Regions from separate parts of the Homo sapiens genome. Here regions 1 and 2 are each linked to region 3. Evidence: fine-mapped expression QTL. A gene starts in region 3. Each other region holds a variant in brackets. All regions are shown on one strand. Distances are from middle to middle.

Region 1 (8,189 bases), 330 kb after region 3:
GACTTTTATATCTCAATCTCTGAAGTACGTGCTTGCACTCTAGTTGGGAAAATTATATGACGTTTTTGAGTTGATCCTAGTCAGCCTCTTCTAAAAAACAAGATAATAAGAATGATAGGTGGATATATGTGAACGGGTAACATAAACTGATCCTGATCTCTGGAGTTGACTTGGAGATGATCAATGGGTTACTTTTGCATGGCTTCATTTTGCATGGGAAGGAAGGACTGTATTTGCTGCTTCCTGTGGGCTCTTCCTTAGCATCTCATTAGAAAACAGAGATTTGAGGCAGTTTCTGAGTTTATTGTTTTCTTCAGTGTTCGTTTAATTTGCCTCCCTTTTTGTTCTACACAGTGTTCATCTTATCAGAGAGGATCCTGACTGGTGACTTCCTTTAGCTAAAGTGTCAAAATAACAATCTGGCAGAGAGATGGCAGGACCTATTAAGACATTCCCAGTGCAAGGGCAACCTGCGTGTATTTGTATACCATTTCAGTTTGTTCTGAAGCTTAGCTTAGAAGAATGGGCATGTGGTGTGTGTAAAAACATTTTGGGAAGATGATAGTGTGCTATTATCTTCACTAACAAAGCCAAATAATTAATCTGTTGATTTGCTGTCAGCAGCCATGATTCACATAGCATGGAATAAGTCTATTTATAGAGAGATAGCACCTTCCACATATCAGTTCCAGAGAAGAATCTTTAGTTGGATTGGGAGGAAGTTGCTAAACACCAAAAAGAAAAACTATTCGAATCTGTTTTATAATCACTTTGATGTTGTATTCACTTAATATTTGACTGATTCTTGAAACCACTAGCCTTCCTAAGCCATATCATTGTGAACTAACAAAGTAACTCACAAATGGTAAAGTGGTGAAGTGGAATAATTTGTCCTGATAAAGAATTTCCACTCTGAATTTCTGTCACTGAGACACATGTTCCATTGACCAGACTTTCTAGGGGAGTGAGGCTTAGGAAGTGAATCTAAGGCAAGTGTTTGATGGGAAAGGCCACGGTTGTATTTCTGATTTCAGGGCTGACACATTGAGTATCTCTCCTTCTCTTTTTTCTTAGCTAACCAAGTTCTGATATGTGTAGTATTGAAGCTGTATAAATACAGTGGGGATCCTGAAATTATCATGGCAAAGGGCTCAGATTTAAAATGACAGTAACACAGAATGAAAACATGGGAAATGACTAGGTATGGCCTCACATCACACAGTTTCAGGGCCAGGGTGCACATTGGATCCTTTTTGTGCAGCAAAATCTCTGTCTTTGTAGATGAGAAATCCTGGAGCCATTGCAAGTTTGTAATTTATCTAAGGTTACACAACTAGGTTTTGTCAAAATTGAGACTAGAACTAGATTCAGTTGACTTTTTTTCCTACCTTCCTTGCAACACAGCAGAAAGTAACATCAACTAGTGTAAATAACTGGATGTCTTCTGTCAAAGTTTTAACCATTGGTATTATTATTATCATTGTGATCGTTATTTTATAATTAGAACAGAGATAGGGTAGAGTAGAAGAGGTAACTTGTAGAAGAAGGCATAGGCTAAGGAGGCCATTGGACTTCAGCAATGACCACCGTATAGCATTATTGAAGACCTATAGGCAGCTAGGGTTAATGGGCCCCTTAGACACTGTGTGGACTGTAGATCTTTGAAAATGAAATATTGGAGACCCTGAACTGGAAAGTTGGATGAGGTCATTGAACCATGAAAAAGCCTTTAGAACATTTCTGTTTGTGCACTTTCTAATGAGAAAAGAGTGTACTTATAGTCATTATTTGAGTCATTATTTATGTGTGAAAAGGCTGTATTAGTCAGGCACACTAGAATATTTGCCTAAATGTTGATGCCACTTAATTTGTTGTATCTAGACTATTAGTACATCCGTATGAATTACACGCTTATTCATGTCCAACCTTTAGCTTTATTTTGAGTAGAAACAATAGTACAAATGATTGACTACAAAATGATGTATGTTTTGACTCGGAAGTTATTACAGACAAAGGGTAACACTCATAATCAAGGAGGGAAAGGTGTTTGTAGAATCTCTGAATGTCTGAGTGGCCACGAACCTTGGAGGTCATCAATATTACTCTTTCATTTTTCAAATGAGACCCTCTCTGGAAAGAGCAAAGCAATTGATTAAGCCTAAATCTAGGTATTTTAAGTGATGTGGGTGTTTTTATTATATTTCTATATAACTTAGTTTCTTACCTCAAACCAGAACATGAAAAGAATAATCAATCAGGAAAAATCTATCTTAAAACCTAAAGATCTTCAGAATTTTTTTACAATTTAAAGATTTGATTTCATACGCCGATCCCTTTAAAAAGTAATGGAGTAGAATTACACTACATGGTAAAATAAATCAAAGTAGTAATTGTAATTTACCCGATTTTGTTGATTTTCATTTACCTTATCTTTCTGAGTCCCTGTTTCTGCTGTTATAAAAATTATGGTTATTCAAAATATTTCAGTATTCTTTTACATTGTTTCGGTAGATGCACAGTGTTTAACAGTATACTCATTCAACATTTTTATTATAAAACGTATCCTTTTGCATAGAGGAAGAAAATATCGTAGGAAATAGAAACTTCAAGAAGAAAGTTGACAGTAAAGGTGAAATAATGTTTAATCATGTGATTTATGGAATATGAGTTAGATTTTTATAAATTGAAATAGTTTTGGCCAATATATGGGTCAAGAATAGATTTATATGACAGGTGATATTTTACATTTATAGGAAGTACTTTGATTACATTTTCTCTTTTGAAAGTATGACTCATATCTGAACTACAAAGTCAGCCTAATTAAATGATATTTGGCTTGATTTTTGTTAAAAAAAAAAAAACAGTAAGACCCCTAACTTTTCAGAAACCCACCTTAGGGTTTAAACTGATATTTTGAACATGTTTTTAAAATTCGGTTCTCTCTACAGCAGTGCATTCTCAACAACAAATTATGTTTCCATTGTAGGAACATTTTAAAATAGCAGTTATTGTGATCTCTTGATTTCTTTCATCCCACAGAGATCTCATCAAGACGTAACTCGAGATTAAGTCTTTAAAGTTTTAATGAATTTGTTTTTCTTGAACAGAAGTAGAAAAACAATTTATAGGAAGTGAGGCAGTCTCTGCATTTGAGGAAGCAATAGGAATATTTTGGAAGATCTTTAGAAATGTAAGCTTTGTCTCATAAAATTGTATTTTAAAAAGTCCTGGGCTTACTCATATGGAAACTCATTGCTTTTATTCTTGGTGAGAGAATAAATTTGCTCTGGAAATTTTGTAGATTTGCTTTGGAAATATGTTAATAGTGATCAATTTTTTCTTGTCTCTTCTTTGAATGCATGATCATCATGTATATTTGCTTTTGATGTATAGAATTATTATAGATTGTATGATGATTCCACAAAACAGCCTTGTTAGACATAGAGGACACGCTTGATATGCTATATTTTCAATTTTATCTTCTGGCTTACTCATGGAATTACAGAACTTTTCCTATTTTCTAAAGAAAGGTGCACCACATCTAAAGGGCTGTGATTCCAAGACTACCTCCTAAGCATCTGTGAGTGGGAGAAGGCTTAGATGCAAAATGCCTATAAATTAATCATCTATAATAATAAATTTTAATAATAATAACTTGACTTCAGGATTTATAGAATTTCTTTATAATTTTTGCTTCTTTTACTTTTTATAGCAGTCTGCTGAGATAGCCCCATCTTAGAAAAAAGAAAACTAAGCCTCAAGTGGCAATGAGACTTGTTCAGATTCATGGAATCAGAAGATGAGTAAGTGTCACATGGCTCCCAGTTCCACACTGCAGATAATCTGCTTTTATCTCCCACCACACTGAGGGTTAGGAAGCTGGGAAACTATTGTTGGAGGGAATCTGATGAAAAGTTCAAGAAATGTGGAA[C/T]GTGATTACATGGTTTGTTTTGCTGTGTGTGTGGTCTAGAGTCCCCAGAGTGGAGGAGAGAAGTGGAAAGCTGATGGAGATCTTCAGGGCAGGACTGAAGAAGCAGTCCCATGGCTATGTTGTTATGTGCTGGGCTTAGGCTCCTGGCTCGGATGTTCCTGCCTGAATGCCGGGAGCCTTGATGATATGAAGGGGTGCCACATGGGATACCTAAGGACCCACTGGGAGACTTGGGCCCAGAGGGCCAGACTCTCTTAACCATAAACATAAATGATTGCTTCAGATGTTTTGGATAGTAAAGAGGTTAACACCAAGTTAAAGAGAGCTCTGTAAGATTTAATCTTTTTGTTTGTTTGTTTAACTTAAGTGATAGCATAGCAGAATGATTAAGTACCTGGACTTCGGAGTGGGATGTGAATTCAAATTATGGTCTTATTATTTGTAAGAACATTAGGCAAGTTTCTTAATATCTTTGCACCTCAGTTTGCTGATTTGTAAAATGAAGATATTACCTCTAGCTTTTGGTCAAGAAATGCTTCTTTGAGGAAAAATCATTTAAGCTGAGCTCCAAAAGATGAAACAGGCAGACAGGAATGGAAGAACCTTCAAGGCAGAAGAGAACAACTTGCATGAAGATTGATGTGAGAGGGAGCTCGGTGCTTCTGAAGAAATTGAAGTATAGCTGAAGCAATAAGAACAAGGGGAGAGGGGTACAGATGATGTTGGAAAGTTTGGCAAGAACCGCAGGGCCTTGAGAAGCCTAAGATGAATTTTGTATTTTAATCTAGGGTCCAAAGAAAGATCAGCAGTATGGGGTGATATCATGCGACTTGTATTTTTAATTGGGCACTTTGCCTTTGGAGAAGAGAATGGATAGCAATGGAAGCAGAGTAGAAGCAAGGGAACAGTAAGGAGGCTAGGGCATCAGTCTGGACCAGCAGTTCTCAAAGTACCATACAGTACAGAGGCCCTAGAAGCTTCCTGAAAATCTTTTAGTGGATCCAGAAGGTCAAAACGATTTTCATAAAAAATATTTCCTAATACCACTAGTTATTTGCCATTTTCACTCATTCTGTCACAAGTGTCCAGTGGAATTTTCCAGAGACTGTGTGATATATCCACAATCATCTGTAAAAGGTACTAAAAATTTCCTCCCTTTTCAACCACGTTTCTTTGTGAGGCCAGGTTATCCTCATGTACTTCATCCACAATAAGATATCAAAAGAGATTGAATGCAGAAGCAGACTTGAGAACAAGCTGACTTCTATTAAGCTAGACATTAAAAAGATTTACAAACCAGTCTTTTCATTAATTCCTTTTTGTTTGTTTTGGAAAATAAAGATAAGTTTTATTAAATCATGCTATTTATGTTAACACAGTGGGGCTTATTATTGTTTTAATAAACAAATAATTATTTGAAAAATTTCATTGTAACTTCTAAATACAGTAAATATTGAGAGATATAAACTACATAAGCACAAAGCTCTTCGGGGTACTCAATACTTTCTAGGAGTGTAAAGGATCCTGAAAACAAAAAGTTTGAGAACCACTGGTCTAGGCTATAGATGATGTTGAAATGAAGTTGATGGCCATGGATATAAAAAGAGTGGGTAAAGGTAGAATGAGCAGAACTTCATAAGAGGTAGACTATGAGTGGAGAGTCGAAGGTGCCTGGATAATCCCTGGCTGAACTATTCCATAGTGAATTGCATGTTTGTGGAGATGGAGGAATGCTGGTGAAGGAGCAGGGTTGATAGAGGTCAAATAATGTAATTACCCAACTACAAAACACTATAGAATGTGAAGGTGGGGACGGGGTGCGGTGGTTCACACCCATAATCCCAGCATTTTGGAAGGCTGAGGCAGGTGGATCACAACGTCAGGAGTTCGAGACCAGCCTGGCCAACATGGTGAAACCCCATCTCTATTAAAAATACAAAAATTAGCTCAGTGTGGTGGTGGGTGCCTGTAATCCCAGCTACTTAGGAGGCTGAGGCAGGAGAATCATTTGAACCCGGGAGGCGGAAGTTGCAATGAGCCAAGGTCGTGTCATTGCACTCCAGCCCGGGCCACATGGCGAGACTCAGTCTCAAAAAAAAAAAAAAAAAGAAAAGAATGTGAAGGTGGAAGATTGGGTTTTATTTATTGTTTAATGGTTTTACAATACCCATATATATAAGGCTGTTTACTTTATTCTTGAACTCTCAAGAAACACTCATTGGCCTTCGAATCGTCAAGTGATTTTACAAACACAAATTTTATAAAGTTCTATTTTTCTGCCTATTGTTAGTTATTTGATTCGTTTGTAGTATTTATAGGCCTCCCAGACTCCATGCTTGTAACCACACTTATGTTAATGCCTCATAATTGAAACTTGGACTGATGGTTTTGCATTTGAAGATTCACCAACCATGGATGGAAATATTCAAGAAGAAAACCATAGTACAACCATGCTATGCAAATACTATGCCATTTTATGTAAAGGACTTGAGGATCCTCCGGTTGGGTATCCTGAGGGTGGCGGTCTTGTAACCACCACTCCTCACCCTGAACATAGGGAGGGATGACTGTACTCTATAGAGTCTTTTCTTCGTTACTTTTCAGGAGTCAGTAGAGAGGGCCCTAAGGCCTAAGACCAAACTTGGTTCCCTAGAAGTAAAGAATGACATGGGTCAAATAGGATCTGTATGCTGAATCACAAAATGTTAGCACTTAGAGCTTATATAAGCCACTGGTTCTCAGCCCTAGCTGCAAAATGAAATCACCTGAGAGTTTTTAAACGTACTAATGCCAAACACCTAGAAAGTCTATGCTAATATGCATCATATATTGAGAGTCCCCAACCTGTTCCAATTCCTTTATTTCATAAATTGTGGCCCTTAAACAAAATTAATGATTTTGTTAATGTCTTTAGGAACACATCCATTATGCCTAGAAATTTTATACACTAATATAATTTATAATGATGATCTCTTCTGTCTCAGCCCATTCTGGTTGTTATGATAAAATACCATGCACAGGTGGCTTAAACAACAGAAATGTATTTTTCACAGTTCGAGAGGCTGGCATTCCCAAGATCAAGGTGCCGGAAGATTCGGTGTCTGTGAGGGCCTGCTTCCTAAGTCATAGATGGCAGTCTTTGCTGCTTTTTCAAATGGCAGAAGGGGCAAGGGAGCTCCCTGGGGTCTCTTTTGTAAGACCACTAATCCCATTCATGAGGAGAGAGGCTTCATGACCTAATCACTTCTCAAAGTCTTCCACTTCCTAACATCATCTTGGAGGTTAGGATTTCAACATTGGGCAGGGGGAGGGACACATAAACGTTCTGTCCAAGGCACCACTTTTTTTTTTTTTGCTTATATTTGAATCTTTCCTGTGTTTAATGATATCCCAAAACTGAGCTGCATCATCATATGGAATGCTTGCATGCCTCGTCTTCTTGATGAAAACTTCAGTTCCTAAGCACAGGACCTGGTCAGCACTAGATTTCTCAGAACTTAGTATACTGCCTGTGTCACTGCAGTTCTTCAGTTGCTGTTAAATCAATGAGGAAATGACATCCTGACTCACTGAGCAAGCCTCAGAGGAAGAAGGATTCTGAAGGTAGCATCTCTCCTTCCCACCTAAGGATGCTGAGGTCCTGCAAAGCCTGGGGCTTCTCAGTTTCACAGGACTGGTTAGATTCTGGATTTAGACTCAGGTTTGTTTTTCCTAATCTACTTTTCTTTCTACTCTGCCAGTCCTGGAAATGGACCTCAGTTTCTGTCTTTGAAAAACAAGGGAGCTATATATAAGAATATATAAGAGCTGGCTCACACCTGTAATTCCAGCACTTTGGGAAGCTGAGGCGGGCAGATCACTTGAGGTTAGGAGTTCGAGACCAGTCTGGTCAACATGGTGAAACCCTGTCTTTACTAAAATACAAAATTAGTCGGGCGTGGTGGTGCATGCCTGTAATCCCAGCTACTTGGGAGGCTGGGGCAGGAAAATCACCTACCTGGGAGGTGTAGGTTGCAGTGTGCCAAGATCACACCACTGCACTCCAGTCTGGGTGACAAAGCAAGACTCTGTCTCAGAAAAAAAAAAAAAAAGAAAAAAGAAAATATAAGGGCCTCTTTAGCCTGAAAAGCTATTAACTGTAGCTCCCCTCACCCCAGGAAAAACATTTGTGACTGGGAACATGAAACACAGATCTTTTCCCTGCTTCTTACTTGAAGGACAAAACTATTTTCTTAGTGTGCTGTTTTGGATGTTCCTA
Region 2 (8,189 bases), 720 kb after region 3:
TCCTTTCTCTCTTCTTTGAAAACATTCTAGTAAGATCTGTCACCCTCCATTTTAAAACTGCTTTATTGAGTTATAACTCAATTCAAAACTATATACAAATTTAAATTGTGGAATTTAATACATTTTGACATATGTACATGCCCATGAATCCATCATCACAACCAAGACAATGCACATATGCATCACTCCTTAAAGTTTCCTCATCCTCTGTGTCATCCTCCTTTTCTCACCCCCTTACCCTACCCTAATCTCACCAGCCCTGATCTGCTTTCTGTGACTGTAAATTGGTATTCATATTCCATAATTGTGTGTAAGTGGAATAAAACACGATGTGCTCTTTCTGTTTGTCTTCGTTCACTTAGTATAATTATTTTGAGATCCATCCATGCAGTTGCATGTATCAATAGTTCATCCCTTTTTTATAGACCAGCAGTATTTCATTAAGTGTACAACACTTTATTTATCCATTCACCTGCTCATGAAGATTTGCTTTTCCTCACACACTTGGGTTACCAGTACTCAGCTGAAGACTTGAGGGACCTCTCTACAGCTAGCTATCTAGAACTCTCTGTTTGCTCAGCTCTGTCTTCTCCAGTATTCTGTCTAGAGAAAGCTGAACAACTTGACATCCCTGGACCCTCAGGTCTCTTAAATTAGGGACACCACTGGGCTTTTTTAGATTCCTTTCCCTGCCTCTCCATAGGGATCTAGAACTCTCTCTTTGCTTAGCTCTTTCTCCTCCAGTACTCCCTCTAGAAAAAGTTACACACGATGACATCGCTGTACCCTACAGTCTGTCTTAATTTAGCATGATGGCTGGGCTTTTTTCAGGTTCTTCTTCCTGCACAATGACCTGTATACTCTCTATAGATTGTAAGCTGGGGGCTATCACACAAATTACTTTATTTTTTCCCTCCTCAATCAGGAATCACTGTCTTGGGCTGCCTGATATCCAACATCTAAAATCTGTTGTTTCATATATTTTACCTGGTTTTGTTCATAGTTTCCATTGTAAGTGTAAATCCAGTCCCTGTTTCATCATCATGGCTAAAAGTGGAAGTTTCTTTTTGGTAATATTCAGTTATAGAAGTCTTATTTTTATAACTATGACTTATTTTAATGTATTAAAGATATAGTCGAGTCCAACCACAAAATGCCAGCCTCTTGTTCATTTCCATGCCTCACTCCTCTTTTAAATGGATGCCTCGCTCATGGCTCAGGGATCTGCAGTGGGAAAGAAGTCATAGTCTGTTTTCTCACTCTTCTTCTGGCTCTTTCAATTATCATAATCTCTCAAGCTGTGGACTCTTCTGAGGCTGGGGCAGGGGAGTGGAAGCCAGAAGAAAGGCGGGTGGGCTTTAGGTAATTTTTACTATTTTATTTGTACTCTTTGGTTTGATGCCCTTGATATTTGCAAAAACTCTCTCATGAGTTGCATTTTTGGGTTCTTTGGAGGCCTCACAGAAACTGCCAAATGACAGTTTCCACACAACTAGGAAATATACCTTCTGACAGAACGTTTGCAGATGCTTCCTCCTCCAGCTGCTATGTGGATATGTAACCACATTCACCCTTGATATCTCTTTATTTCACCAGGCATCCTACTGAGATGAATTCTCTTTAAAAGAGCTACTTTCCATGGCATCCATTTGGCCAATAGAAAATTCATCATGCTTACCACACCAAGTAGCAGGAAGGCAGGCTTGTCACGCTGTACCCTCCTTCCTTGCCCTAGTCTCCAGTACTGCTCCAGCTGGCCTCTAACCTCCAGAATCCTCCCATTAATATGCAGGTATGAGTTTCTAAATAACGCACACATACACCCTACCTCTCCCTAAGGGGCCGTATCTCAAGCTATCCCCAAATGTCTTCATATTTCTTTTTTTTTTTTTTTTTTTTGTGACGGTGTCTCACTCTGTCACCCAGGCTGCAGTGCAGTGGCTCGATCTTGGCTCACTGCAAGCTCCGCCTCCCGGGTTCACGCCATTCTCCTGCCTCAGCCTCCTGAGTAGCTGGGACTACAGGCGCCCGCCACCACGCCCGGCCAATTTTTTGTATTTTTGGTAAAGACGGGGTTTCCCCGTGTTAGCCAGGATGGTCTTGATTTCCTGACCTCGTGATCCTCCCGCCTCAGCCTCCCAAAGTGCTGGGATTACAGGCGTGAGCCACCGCGCCTGGCCCATATTTCTTTAGTCTGGTAATCTACATGTATATCTTAGTAATTTAGTAAACATTCAGGAGCAAAGTAAAATGGCAGTCCCTAATTTTTGCAAGCAACTCAATCTCCCAGATGTTTTATTGTCCTTAGCATTTTCCTCACTTGGCTTGAGAGGTTGATGATACCCCTCTCTTATCTTTCCCTTAAGGAAGGGTAGGATTAATATTAAAGAATATGTTAATATTAAAACATGTTAGTCTCCTATTAAAATAGATATTTGAGTTTCTAATGGTTGTTTCATTCTCTTTGCTGTGTTTTAACAAGTCCCGCATGAGTGTATCTAGAAACTTTCTTTAGAATGTGATTATAGTGATTCATTCCCATCCAAAATTCAAGACATAAGGAATTTTGTCATTTAACATCTTGTTGAGACTGGATCAAATATTCCTTTTGGAATGATCACTATAGCTGCAGTGCAGGAAACAGAAGAAAGGGAGGACAAATAGGACATTATTTATTTATTAATACTTTGTTCTTAGCTTTGTTGAGGTATGATTAACACATATAAATTGTATGTATTTTAGGTGTACGACGTGATATTTTTGCTAAATGTATACATTGTGGAACGACTACCACAATTGTGCCAACATATCCAACAACTGGCCTATTCATCTTTTGTGTGGTGGGTTGGGGGACAGAGGGGTGAGAATACTTGAGATCTACTTTCTTAGCAAATTTTGAATATAGGACACATTGCTATATTAACTATAGTCATCATGCTGTACATTAGATCTACAGACTATTTGTCTTATAACTGAAATTTGGTATTCTTTGGCCAATATCTCCTCTTTTCTCTCATATTTAAAAGACTATGGTTCATAATAATTCCAGGTATCAAGCTGAAGTTACTCCTGAAAGATACAGAGAACAGCTTTTTTTTATTATTATTAAAACTTCAGAGGCACTGCAACTGGGATCTAAAATCCCGGGGAGCCAGCAGTAAGGGTGTTGAGGCTGCTACTGATAGAGACAATGATTGGAGGTGGAGGTCTCCTTTAATTGTGTCTAAGACAAGGAGATTTATTCTATTTGTCTTGGTTCTCTTGTGGGTCAGAGTCCAGGTTCTCTAATTTCACATTTATGGGACCAAACCATTAACTCTTGCAGAAAGTATGAAAACCATCTCAAAAGGTATTTCTGGCCTACCAAGGAGGGTATGTTAGATCTAGAAAATTCCTCCTATATTATTGAAACCAAATTTAAGAGAAGCCTTAAATTCTCTTCTTAGCACACATTTTTTACACCTCGGGGGAATAGATCATTTAGATCCATCTTGAGCAGTTCTTGGGGCACCGTTTGGCATGTTTGTCTCTTATTAGGCTCCATTTTTCTAAATCTTAGTTAAAAAGAGGGATAAATTTAGATAAATCAAATTTCTGTTCAAATGCCATCTCCTCAGAAATATTTTTTCTATCAAAAGAGCAGCTATCATTTTCTATCCCTTTATCCTACATTATTTTCCTTTATAGCTCATCTTATTACCTGACATTATTCTGTATATTTTTATATTTATTTATTGTTTGGCTATCTCATTTAAATGTTAGTTTTATGAGGATAGAGACTTAGTGTGCTTTATAAGGCTAGAGACTTAGTTGCTTCTGTATCTCCAGTGCTTAGAACAATGCCTGACATATAATAAATGTTCAGTAAATACTTGTTGAATTACTATGTTGAGTAGAAGACTGGACCTTTGTTGAAGTTCTCTCTCAGCACAACATCATTTCCATTATTTCTTTGTAAGAATTTGATGCTGAGGATTTCCCTTCACAGTGTTATCTAACCCTTTTATA[C/G]AGGAAACAGTCCCAGTACTTGGCATGACATTGCAGCTAGACATAGGATCCAAACATCTAAGGTGGCATTGTGGAAAGAGACAGTTTATCACATGGACCCACGCCCAGGAAAACAAATAAAGAGTCCAGTTATCTGAGTTGGTGTTCTCAAAACAGGAAGTGGCTCTTTTACTAGAGTTGGAACATATAAACCAGTCAAGATGGCTTGATTATGAGTCCCTTTAACACTGAGCCAAACTTTAATGTTGCTTTGGACTAAAGACTGGATTGTTAACTACATTTGCACAAAACTAATCCTGAAGTGGAAGGTGAAGTAGCTCCACCTGAGGGAGAAGGGAAGATGAACTGTGAAGAAGCAATAGACACTTCGGGCTTTCATGTAACTGTGGCAACAGGAATCCCAGTCAGTTCGCCATGATGTTGAAATTGATGGTTACCAAAATGGTCAAAAAGGACTTGCTTCACTAAAGTGACCAGAAAATTTCATTCAAAATTATCAATTGTGTAACACTTTTAAAACATAATAGAATGGCCATTTATATGACTACGAAAGTATTTATCTTTAAAAGTTCCAGGGAACATTTCTTTCTGGTGTTTAGGGTCCATCCAAAAATCAACGAGTACTTAGCAGCAATACAGTTGGAATTAAAATCCCATTAAGTCTCACTTTGTGAGTTTCTCTAATTAAAGTCTCACTCTACTTCTCAGTAAATATTTATTAGAGGAATCATTAGGTGAAGTCCCAAATTATTAATGTTTGAATATAAATATCAAATATGCTACAACAAGTATCCAAATGTTTCACGCAGTGTCATTAATATAACTGAATTAGTCTGGAAAATGTCATCAGAAATGTCTTCAATGTCAGGGAGGGTAGCAGGAGGGGCTGCTACTCTCACTGATGATCAGGAACTTGTTTTTCCTTGTCCTCCTACATTTACTCTAATTCGAGCAAAATGGCATTCATTTTTGAAGAGTTATAAACAGGATTATCTCAAAGATACCTTTCAGTCTCAAATCCCTTGTACCTTTAATTGTGCTTTTAAGAGTTATCTGTTTTCCTCCTAGGTCACTATCAGAGTCCTGTGTGTGAACTGAGGTGAGGATTCCGGTCAGGCAGACACTTCAGTCCATCAGAGCAACTCTACTTTTATCTCTTTTTTAATACTGGGATTTGCAGTATATTTTCATTTGAAGACTGTTTTGTGTATAAAAGCAAAGCATTCTGGGGGCAAAGAAGATACAGTGGAACTGAGTACAGGCCAAAGAATCTCTAGATAAAAGACTTTTTTTGTTGTTATTCAAAGGTCATTTAAATATGGTTAGATTTATCACCTCTATTATTGATTAATATTTACATATATTTGTCATATCACTCAATTACCAATGCATAAGCACCACTTTTCTGAGGAAAGGAATATTGATGCATCTCAGCCTGCTACTTAAGTGAGATAATTAATATATCTCTGGAATTATCTATGCATGGTAGACCTTGATGTTTGTCTGCAAAGGATAACCAAGTTCATTCCCAGGAATAAATTACATATGTTTAAAAGACATATTAAAGAGACCAATTAGGTGGAAAAAGCTTCTTCTTCATATTAACACAATACATTTAATTATAGCAATGAGAATGCAAAGAAAATGGTACTTGAAGAGGGAAATTTAAAGGGTGAGGGAAATTCAGAATCCAGAATAATCACAACGTGAGCCCAAAGAAGGTAAATATTTTTGAGGAAGTTATAGTTTAACAATAATTTGATGTGACACTTTTCTTTTTTTTCTTGAGATGGAGTCTTGCTCTGTTGCCCAGGCTGGAGTGCAGTGGCGTGATCTCAGCTCACTGCAAACTCTGCCTCCTGGGTTCAAGCAATTCCCCTGCCTCAGCCTCCCGAGTAGCTGGGATTACAGACATGTGCTACCACACTCGGCTAATTTTTGTATTCTTAGTAGAGATGGGTTTCACCATGTTGGCCACGCTGGTCTCGAACTCTTGACCTCCTGATCCACCCACCTTGGCCTCCCAAAGTGCTGGGATTACAGGCGTGAGCCACTGTGACCGGACCAAAACTTTTCAAATATAGTATTCAACTTGGCATTATTATTAATCTTAGGTTCTATACCTTGGGAACAATATGAATTGCAATATGAGATACATATTTGGGTAATGATAGAGCAATGATTATTATGGCAGGGAACCTCTGATTTAAGAGAAACATTGAGCAGTCTGAGTTAAAAGACAAAGAAGTGGGGTCCTGAGCCAAGCTTTACCAAACATTACTGACCATAGACAATTCACATTCCCTGTCTAGGTTCCAGTTTTTCTATAATTTGAAGATGTCGAATTAGTGATCTTTAAAGTTATTTCAGTTATAGCATTATACAAATGAAAATAAAATAAAAAGCTTAGATTCAAAGCACATGTGGTATCCCAATGAATTGATTTCTGATAAAACCCACTTGAGTTAAAAAAAAAAATGTGATTTTATAGCAGCCTGTGTGCAGGGGGCAAACAATTTTTAAACCAGAAGATAAATAGAAGGAGTGATTGTAAGAGATTATTAAGAAAACTGAAAAGAATATATTTGGCATTCATGAGGAAAGTGAACACTGCCTCTCAAATTATTTTTGCTTGAGAGGAGAGTGGCCTTTGGCTTCTCACCTGTGTTTTGGTTGGCTTTAAAAACTTGGATTTAAGTCCCACCAAAGTTGAATATAAAATGTATAGAAAATTCCACTGCTCAAAAAAAAAAAAAAGAACACTCCTTCCACAAATTGCCATTATGTATGATAGTTTGCCATTTGAGACAATCATTGAATATTCTTAGTTGCAAACAACAAAATTCACTCCAATAGTTTTAGTAGGAAGTGATTTATTTGAAGTCTATTGGCAGCACCAGAAAACCTGTATAGACCAAGGGGACCAGGCTTAAATCCTAAATATCTAGGAAAAATATGCCTTTGGGAACAGCTGTCCAGGAGCGATGCCAAGGGAATGCTGTAGCAAAATAGCATTTTCATCAGTTGATGTTTGCAGCTGATTATGCTCAGAACTTTATGGTTAGGTATTGCCCCCCTTGTGGATTTTAGTATTTTTCAATGATTCTGGCAGATTAGACACAGTCCATATTGTCCTCACCATAGCGAGGTGAAATCCATGTTGTTGAGCTTATAGTTAACTTACCTTCCTGACTATATTCAGGAGCCCTTTGAGCAAATACTAAAGTACTTGAAGAAAGAGACTACGACTACAATACAATTTTCACATTTTTGTAACTCTACTACAGAGGAGTCCTTTTTGGTGAGTATTCACATAAGATATAAATATTCTCACCTTTGGCTCATATCTCTTTATCAGTCTTCTTTGTCAATAATTATCCAATTTCATTCCTTCCATGTGACTGCCCATTGGGTGAAAACTTTAGCCATTGCCAATTAACTGGTAGATGTCTACATCTGACCCTATCACTGGATGTACTGTAGTTTGTTTAAACATTAATGCATTGAAGGACATTTGTGTTGCTTCCATTTTTTGGCTATTCCAAATAAAGCTCCTGTGAAACTTCTAATATACGTTTTTATAGAATGTCATGTTTTTGTTTCTCTGGAATAACTGTTCCCAAATAGAGTTGTTATATGATAGTTGGCTGTTTATTTTGTTTGTATTTTTCTTTTTCTGTCTTTTTTTAAGAAAACACCAAATTGTTTTCTGAGTGACCTGATTTATCTACACCCTTACCAAAATTTGGTGTTTTCACTATTTTTGGTTTTAGTCATTCTGATAGGTGTGCAGTGATCTCAACGTGATTTTACTCTACCTTTCCCTAATGACTAATAATGTCAAACATCCTTTCATGTGCTTATTTGACATCTGTTTATACTATTTGATGCAATGTCTGTTCATGTCTTTTGCCCAATTTATTACAAGATGTTGAATTATATGAATGCTTTATATATTCTAGCTACTAGTTTTTTCATTGGATACGTGATTTCCAAATATTTTTTCCAGTCTATAGAAAATGCCTTTACTTTCCTCACATGGTCTTCTATAGAATAATAGTTAAAAAAATTGATGAGGGCTGGGTGTAGTGGCTCACGCCTGTAATCCCAGCACTTTGGGATGCCGAGGTGGGCGGATCACGAGGTCAGGAGATTGAGACTATCCTGGCTAACACGGTGAA
Region 3 (8,189 bases):
ATATAATAGTGAGTACAATTTATTGAGTGACCAGTATTTTAGACACTTTTATAAGTATTATGGTCAGTCCTTACAACAGCTCTGCCTACAAGAAGATATTACTTACTTTTCCAGATTAAAAAAATAGGACCCAAATGGATTAATTGCCCAAGATGGTACCATAAATAATAAGAAGCAAATTGTATTTGAGCCCACGTCTGTCTGGTTCCAGAATCTATTTTTTTCACTATGCTCTACTGTCTCTCTATTCAAATGTATGATAGAAAACTTAGGTGAGATAAAGAGATATGATCTCTCCCAGATACTCTGGAGTTTTGTAGCTCTGATCCCGGAACAGTACTAAGCATTTCTCTGCCTCCGTCCACTTTCCTCTTTGACATTGGAGATTCACATCTGGCAGAGAAACCTGGAAAATGATAATAACTTCTTATGTCCAAAAGTACTTTTGCACACTCACATGGTCCCTGCCCCACACTCATACCCCAACCCTGTGAAGCTCACACTTCAAGAACTAGCTCTATATATGTCTCCTCCAGGAAACTTTCTTAAAACCCTCAGGCTGGCTGACTGCCAACTCTTCTGCACCTCCTACTCCACCTGTGACAACCTATCTTATACCTTACGATAGCTTTTAAAATCATTTATGTTTCTATCATCTTCAATAGACTTTATGCTTCTGTACGGCAGAGATCATGTTTTATTCATACTTTAACCTCTCTGTGCTCCAGGTTGCTTATCTTTAAAACAGAGATCATAATAGTACTAACCTCATAATATTTTATTTTATTTCTTAAATTGACAAATAATAATTGTACACATTCATGGGGTAAACAGTGACATTTCAATACATATAATGTAAGTGATCAGATCAGGGTAATTATTATATTCATCATCTCAAATATTGATCATTTCTTTGTGTTGGGAAACTTCAATATCCTCCTTCTGCTGATTTTAAAGTATGTAAAATATTATTATTAACTATAACCATATTACAGTCGTATAGAACACTAGAACTTATTCCTCCCACCTAGCTGTAATATTGTATCCTTTTACAAATCTCTCCCTCCTTCCCCCTACCCTTCCCAGCTCCTCCTATCCTTTGTTCTACTTTTTACTTCTATGAAATCAACTTTTTCTTTTATCTTACACGTATGAGTGAGAACATGTGGTGTTTAACTTTCTGTTTCTTAGGCTTATTTCATCAAGCATAATGTCCTTCAGTTTCATCTATGTTGCTGCAAATGACAGGATTCCATTCTTTTTTATGGCTGAATAATATTTTATTGTGTATATGTACCCCACTTTCTTTATGCATTCATTTGTTGTTGGACACCTAAGTTGATTCCATATTTTGACTATTGTAATAGTGCTGCAATAAACATATGGGTGCAGATATCTCTTTGATATACTGATTCCCTTTCTTTTGGATAAATTCCCAGTAGTGGGATTGCTGGATCATATGGTAATTCTAGTTTTTTTTTTTTTTTTTTTTTAGAAAACTCAATACTGTTCTCCATAGTGACTGTACTAGTTTACATTCCCACCAACAGTGCATAAGAATTCCCTTCTGTCTGCTTCCTCACTAGCATGTGCTTTATTTTCTTTGTCTTTTGATAATAGCCATCCTAACTGGGATGAAATGATATCTCTTTGTGGTTTTAATATGCATTTCTCTGATGATTAGTGATGTTGAACTTTTTTTCATATATTTATTGGCCGTTTGCATGTTCATATAGCTTATTTAATGAATAAAGATAATATTCATTAAACATTTAGAATCCTTATAGTACCTGGCACATAGTAAGCTCTGAGCAATGTTAGGTCAATATTATCATCATTTTGTTATCATGGTGATTGTAGTTAATGTCACATAGTAAAGTACACAAAAACATGTATGCTAAATGTTATTAATTCATGAAACATTTTTATTGTTTCCTATGTTCAGGACACTCTAGACTACACTGAAGTAAAAGGAGGCCATTTAAAAATATGAGTGGGAAAAAGGAACAAGATATATACATAAATCATTCTGGTACAGAATAAAAAATAGTGATGGAAGAGAAGTAACTCATCAGTTTTGGAATCATTAGTGAGCGGATCATCAGTGTTCTTGGTAGAGAATATTTTCAGACTAAGAGTATCAGGGAAGACTGTAAGAAGGAGATGGATCTAGAGGAAAATATAAGATTTGAATTTGTAGATACTTGTGGTAGGTAGTGGTTTGATGAGGTCAAGATATTCCAGCAATGACTATGTAAGCAAAGGTAAGAAAAATCTTGACAGAGGAGCTATCATGAGCAAGAAGGTTGTTTTCCCAGTCAAGGCTTATCAATTGCATTCCAGATGTGCTGACCCCTGCAATTTCCCCATACGTGGGAAACTAGACTGCATAATTTGTGGTAGTGGGGGTCTGTGATCCCACTTTCCCCTGGTTTAAAAACAATCTTGAGGTTTGTTTAGGATAATAGCAATTGTTGTCTAGGAGTTAAGCTTGGAGAAGAATGGAAAGATCTTGAATGTCAGAACACAAATTTTGCATTAAATTTGATTTGCTTTCTATTTAATAAAGCAGCTGGGTTCTTAAAATTATGAATAAAAATAATGATAATTTATGAACTAGAAGGTTCTCCCTGTTCTTATTCACTGTAGATAATGGGAAGGCAGTTATATGAAAAATCATTCTGGACTATAGATGGCTTGCCTCTGCCTTTGAGGTATGACACTTAGGTTCTGAGCCCAGATCTGGTTCACCATGTGACTCTTTTCAAGTGCCACTCCTCCCCTGCCTTTAGTTTCTCCGTCTGTAAAAGAATAAATATGAAGAGTACATAGAGATGCATTCTAAAGATATCTCCTATTCTAAAACCTTTGAGAAGGAAAGAACATGTAACGGGGTGCAGTATTAAGAGCAGAAATTATTTATCTCAATGAAATAGACTATTGTTCTTAAGGAGCAACACTACTCCCACCCTAAGCTTACTTCCTAAGCCTATTCAACATTGAAAAGAAATCCTGAATTTTATGATTCTTCCAAACACGTACTTTGGCATACAGTTGGAGAACCTAAAAATTAGTAGGCCCTAGGTTGTGGCCTCTGCAATCCGATACTCCTAAATGCTGAATGGATCCAGGCGTTGCTGACCCACAGCAGTTCATTAGTGGGAGTCCTCCACTAATAATGTCCATGTCTGGCTGAACCATCCGTGGTTAATATTTGTAATCATGGCCCTCAGGCATTGGAAAAATCAAAGGATGCCCTCTGAATCACCAGAAAAAGATTAAATTAGATACAACTCCAGGTTTCTTGTTGGGAGTACATTTTATTATATTTCAATGTTTTGAAAATTGGGACTAGAAGCCTACTGTGGAAGGATCTTTCATGAAGTAGAGTATGTGACTAATCTGCACATCTCCTTCCTTAACCATTTCAGATAACAGAGTTTTCTGGACTTCTGGAGAATAAGATTATTATTCTCAAGGAGAGATGATCACCTCAGGAAAATCTGGACTATTGAAAAAAAAAGGTAGTAAATACAACACAATTTTTCCTGTTAAACATTTTGCATATAAACGAAATACAGTGTGGGCTTTAGAAATATTTTGATATGAAAGTAGCACTTCAAGAGATTTGTGGTTTTGCATCTTCCTCTAGAGCTCTGTACAAGAAAAATACTCTATCCCTGCAACTTCACAAAAATGATTAGGTATTGCTTTTGGAAGTACTTATTATCAATAAGACGCCTCCCCACCTTTGGGGACTTCTTGCAGGTTGTTGGAAAAAAGCTAAAAAGAGCACCTCAAAATATCCTCAGTGGCTTTTTTGAAGAACTTTAGAAGCCTTGGAGCCTGCTCATGGAACAGTTTTGAGGTGGAGGCAGGCAGGAAAACACTGAGTTTGAGTAACAAAGAAGCGAGAGAATATTAACCTTTGACAGCTCCATAACTACTCTCACCCCACTCTCGAAAAACAAAACAAAACACATACAGGAATATAACAAGCAATGTGAAGTCAGTGGGGAGAGGAGAGGGAAGCAGACAGCTGGAAAGTTACTGCAGCAAGTAGAAAGAGAAACCCAAATTGTGAACATTAAAAACGATTCGTAAATCTCTCCTCCCTGCCTTCTGAATAAAACCATACCCTGCCTGGAGACACTAGCCTCCTCTAAGACTTCAGTAATTCGTCCTGATGCACGCAGTACTAGTCCAATCCATTTTCTAGTTTGCAGAGGAAAATCCGGTCCGGCGTTTATTTTTAGCAGCGCTTCCCTGTGACCGAATGCTACAGCTCCTCAGCTGGGATAACTGAGGACCGTATTGGGGAGGGAGGCGAAGGGGGCGGGGGAGCGGGAGGCGGTGAAAAGGGGAGGGGGGACGCCCTGCGCATGCGTGCCAGCGCCCATGCAAATCTGCTGTGCATCCAGAGAGCAAAGTGGGATGATCTGTCACTACACCTGCAGCACCACGCTCGGAGGACAGCTCCTGCCTGCAGCTTCCAGACCCAGGTAAAAAAAAAAAAAAAAAAATCTGAGCGGGCACTGTGCATGCATTTCAGTATCAGATGCGCGTCGCAACGTATCCCCTGTAGAGGCAATCTGCTGCTGCTCCTAAGTGTCCTTTGGTGGCTGATTGCAGCTTCAAGGTTTAAGAAATCCCATCTTTCAGGAAGCCTGAGGGGAAGGAAGGAAGTACGGGCGAAATCATCAGATTGGCTTCCCAGATTTGGGAATCTGAAGCGGGCCCACATCTTCCGGCCAACTTCCATTGAACTTCCCAGCACTCGAAAGGGACCGAAATGGAGAGCAAAGGTATGTGGTTGTCCCTATCGGGGGACTTCCCGCTGCATGTGCGTGTGGCCAAGGCAATCCTCGGCGAGGGGACTGCAGTGCTTGGGGAGCGAGCATCATACTAGGTCGATAGAGGAGGAGATGCTATGTCCATTGCAGCACTGGGGAAGTGTGGCAGGAAGGCGACTTCTTTTTAACTCCCACAGCTTGGAAGACAGTGTTTAATACTCCATCAGTTGCGTAGTGAACTGTGATGAGTTTTTTGGGGGGAGGTGGGGAGAGTCCCCCCAAAATGGAGGAGGAGGAGGAGGTATGTGTTAGTAAAGCAATATCTTTTCTGTATAATGGATGGACTCAAATAAATCTATTTCATTTGCTTTAGAATTGCTGACAGGCACGTTTGTACCTGATATCCAATAATGCATTGCTAAAAAAAAAATGTTTGAATTTCACCACCCCCACCTCATGAAGATGGTATTTCTGGGTGTGTATGACCACATCCTACTGCATTTTGAATATATATCAGCAGAGAAATTGGGTCTATTTGGAACAGCATGCGTTAGAACTGACCTCTAAGAAGAACAGTGTATGGGAGTACTGCTTGGCTTCCAAGCATAATGCATTTACTAGTTCTGGACATGTACATATTAATGTTCTCCTCATAAGCAAATCTGCATAATGTATGCATGCCAACTGATAAATGAACTGTAAAAATCAACTTCTGAATGGCATATTGAACACACATAAACACAACGACTATTCTAACCACAAGATTAGATATCTTTTGGATTTAACCCCATCTATGCAGGTCTGTTTCTCCTTCTCCTTAAAACGCCCACCAGGTTGTGAGAGCCTTGAGTGATATGGTGGTCAGATATCCAGGAGGCATACTGGATGTATTTAATTCTGGCGAAATCAGAAGAAATGATGTCAACTTTTATGAAACTATATTCATTACCCAGAACTCGGGAAGCTATATTTGAAACAAGATTTTATTTTTAAACCAGGAATGTCAGTCACTGTGGTAATGTACTTAGGATCAGGGAATGGTGGTGAGTTACCTATTTCTGGGCTGATTAATGAAACTGGAGTGTTGAATGATAGCAGTTCTATGTTCAATAAAGTGTTTTAAGTATTTAATTGGTAGATTTAAAGTATTTGAACCTAGGCAAGCATTTATAGTATAAAAAGAGCTGAATCAACATGGATTAAGACTAGCAGGCAATTTTCAGTTCAGGCAGATTATTCTTATGATACATTGATGGGCATCTCCACGTCTGACAATGATGTACACATATGAGAGAATCCATGTCTATAAGTATATTTGAGGCATATATTATTAACTCTATTATACTCCATTTTAAAATAAAAAGGCAGTCCTTAACATATAAAGGTTTGTAATATTCTAGCTGACTAAGTATTTCTGGGACATAAGGTTAACAACAGAAAAAGAATATCATTTTACTATGAAACAGTTTTTCTTGCTTAGATGACACCTGGTATTTGGTCACTAAATTTAGTTATTTGACAAAGGTTCTTGGTAACAGTTTTGCCTCCAATGTGTATACTAATTCCTGTTCAATCATAAAAAGAGGCTATATCTCTCGGCAGTAATCTTTTATTTTCCTTCGTTGCCCATAAAACATGCTACGTGTCACTTAGCATTCCAGGTGGTTTAATGATCATATTGCTAACAGTAGAGTTCTAGCTGTTCTTTCAGTCTTTTGAATTCAGAAAGGAGAAAGAATCTCAGAAATACATCCGAAAAGAATCAGTTCAGAAGTTCTATGTCAATCCAGACAGCAATGATATAGTGAATCACAGCACTGATCCAAAGGCAACGAAGACTTTTGCTGTAGGCCAACATTGTGGTCATTTTGCAGAGGTCCCATAATTGCCTCTGAAAAAAAAAAAAAACATGATGAAAGTCTTTATGCATGTTAGTTCCTGGACTTTCTTAATGAAGCTGTGTTAGCTGCTTGGCAATCAGATTAAAAATGGCTAATTACTTATACATTGGCCTCACTTTCTAAGTTGGTGCAAATGGCACAGCTAACGATGGTAGCTAACTTGAAATTTTTATTCCAGCCAAAAAGAGTGTATTAAGAGAAATGTGTATTTGTGCAATACTGTAATTGGTGCATCTTTCACATTTTATGCTGCCGTGTACAAACTTCTTCCCCCAACAGATTCAAATCTAATTCTAGGAAGACATTCTCAAATGTATGTATATATAATACTTTTCTAGTAGAAACTCTTTAAAGATAGAGTCATATTGCGTGACTCAGTTGAGGGTTCAAGAGTTCTCTATCCCATACCCAGATCTAATGGCCTGTTTAATCTTGAATCCCATCGCCAACACTTGACAACTTTCACATTACCTCTAGCATTTGACAGCCTTTCTTAGAGCATTTGTCCAGCATCCAGAAAGTTGAACTTCAGCTATTTACAAATAAGATCAATTTATTTTTGCTTCCTTATTTACAACTTTGCATCACTCCCTGTCATACAGGGTAAAGAAGAGAGGAAAATACATCAGTTGACCTGAGGTTCAATTCATGATCTAATTTCAGCGATTTTTGTGCACCATGTACTTAACATTGTCTCAAAGATTTGGGTTGGTACGCAGTCCGAGCAGCTCTGACGGAATTTGTGCCTTGCGTATCTTAAGGGCTTGAGATTCTTAAATGAGTTAAAATGTTTAGTATTTAGAGGAGTGGTTCACAAAGTTTGCTGCACACTAGAATCACCTGACATACTTTCTGAACATACTCATCCTGAGATGGCACCGCATACCAATGAAATTAGAATATTGGGGTGGAAGAAAAAAGCATATATGTTTCCTTTAGAGGTCCCTATGTACAGCAGTGTTTGGAAACCACTGATTTAGACTCTTGATAGTCAAAATGTGGTTTGCAGACAAATTTTTTAGAACTGCAGAATCTCCATATTTACTCCAGGTCTATTGAGTCAGAATTAGAATTTTGACAAAGTACCTAGGCAATTTGTATGCACATTAATGTTTGAGAAGCATGATTTGGAGTGAGGAAACAGGCTTTTTCCTTCCTTTCCTCCTTCCTTCCTTCCTTCTTTCCTTCCTTCCTTTCTTCCTTCCTTCCTTTCTTCCTTCCTTCTTTCCCTCTTCCCTCCCTTTCCCTTCCTCCCTTTCTCCCTCCCTTTTCCCTTCCTCCCTTTCTTCCTTCCCCCTCCCTCCCTTCCTCTCCTCCCCTCCCCTCCTTCCTCTCCTCCCCTCCCCTCCTTTCCTCTTCCCTCCTTTCTCCCCTATTCTCCCCTCCCCTTTCCTCTCCTCTCCTCTCCTCTCCTCTCTCTCTCTCTCTCACACACACACACACACTCTCACCTCCCACTGACCCCCACCTATATCACATTTTTCTTTGTCTAGGT

What was found. PIP is the estimated chance that this variant, and not a neighbour inherited with it, causes the effect.
Region 1: its variant is fine-mapped to the expression of FGF12 in tibial nerve (GTEx, PIP above 0.99).
Region 2: its variant is fine-mapped to the expression of FGF12 in lung (TOPMed, PIP above 0.99).

Annotation. Positions count from the first base shown.
Region 1 is chr3:192,398,220-192,406,408 of GRCh38, reverse strand. All of the region lies in intron 2 of FGF12 (fibroblast growth factor 12), which reads left to right. Among named protein-coding and RNA genes, the nearest start is that of FGF12-AS2, 110 kb to the left of the region's middle. The variant C/T (reference allele first, on the strand shown) is at 3,932.
Region 2 is chr3:192,002,125-192,010,313 of GRCh38, reverse strand. LOC105374277 (a long non-coding RNA gene) reads left to right here. Exons shown (of 4, transcript XR_924827.2): 3 at 1,597-1,792; 4 at 5,077-5,250. Among named protein-coding and RNA genes, the nearest start is that of FGF12-AS1, 230 kb to the left of the region's middle. The variant C/G (reference allele first, on the strand shown) is at 4,009.
Region 3 is chr3:192,723,797-192,731,985 of GRCh38, reverse strand. It overlaps FGF12 (fibroblast growth factor 12), which reads left to right and starts at 4,445. Exons shown (of 6, transcript NM_004113.6): 1 at 4,445-4,502; 2 at 4,663-4,805. The coding sequence starts at 4,793. LOC107986056 (a long non-coding RNA gene) reads left to right here. Exons shown (of 3, transcript XR_001740579.2): 3 at 3,432-4,263. It also overlaps the pseudogene RNU1-20P.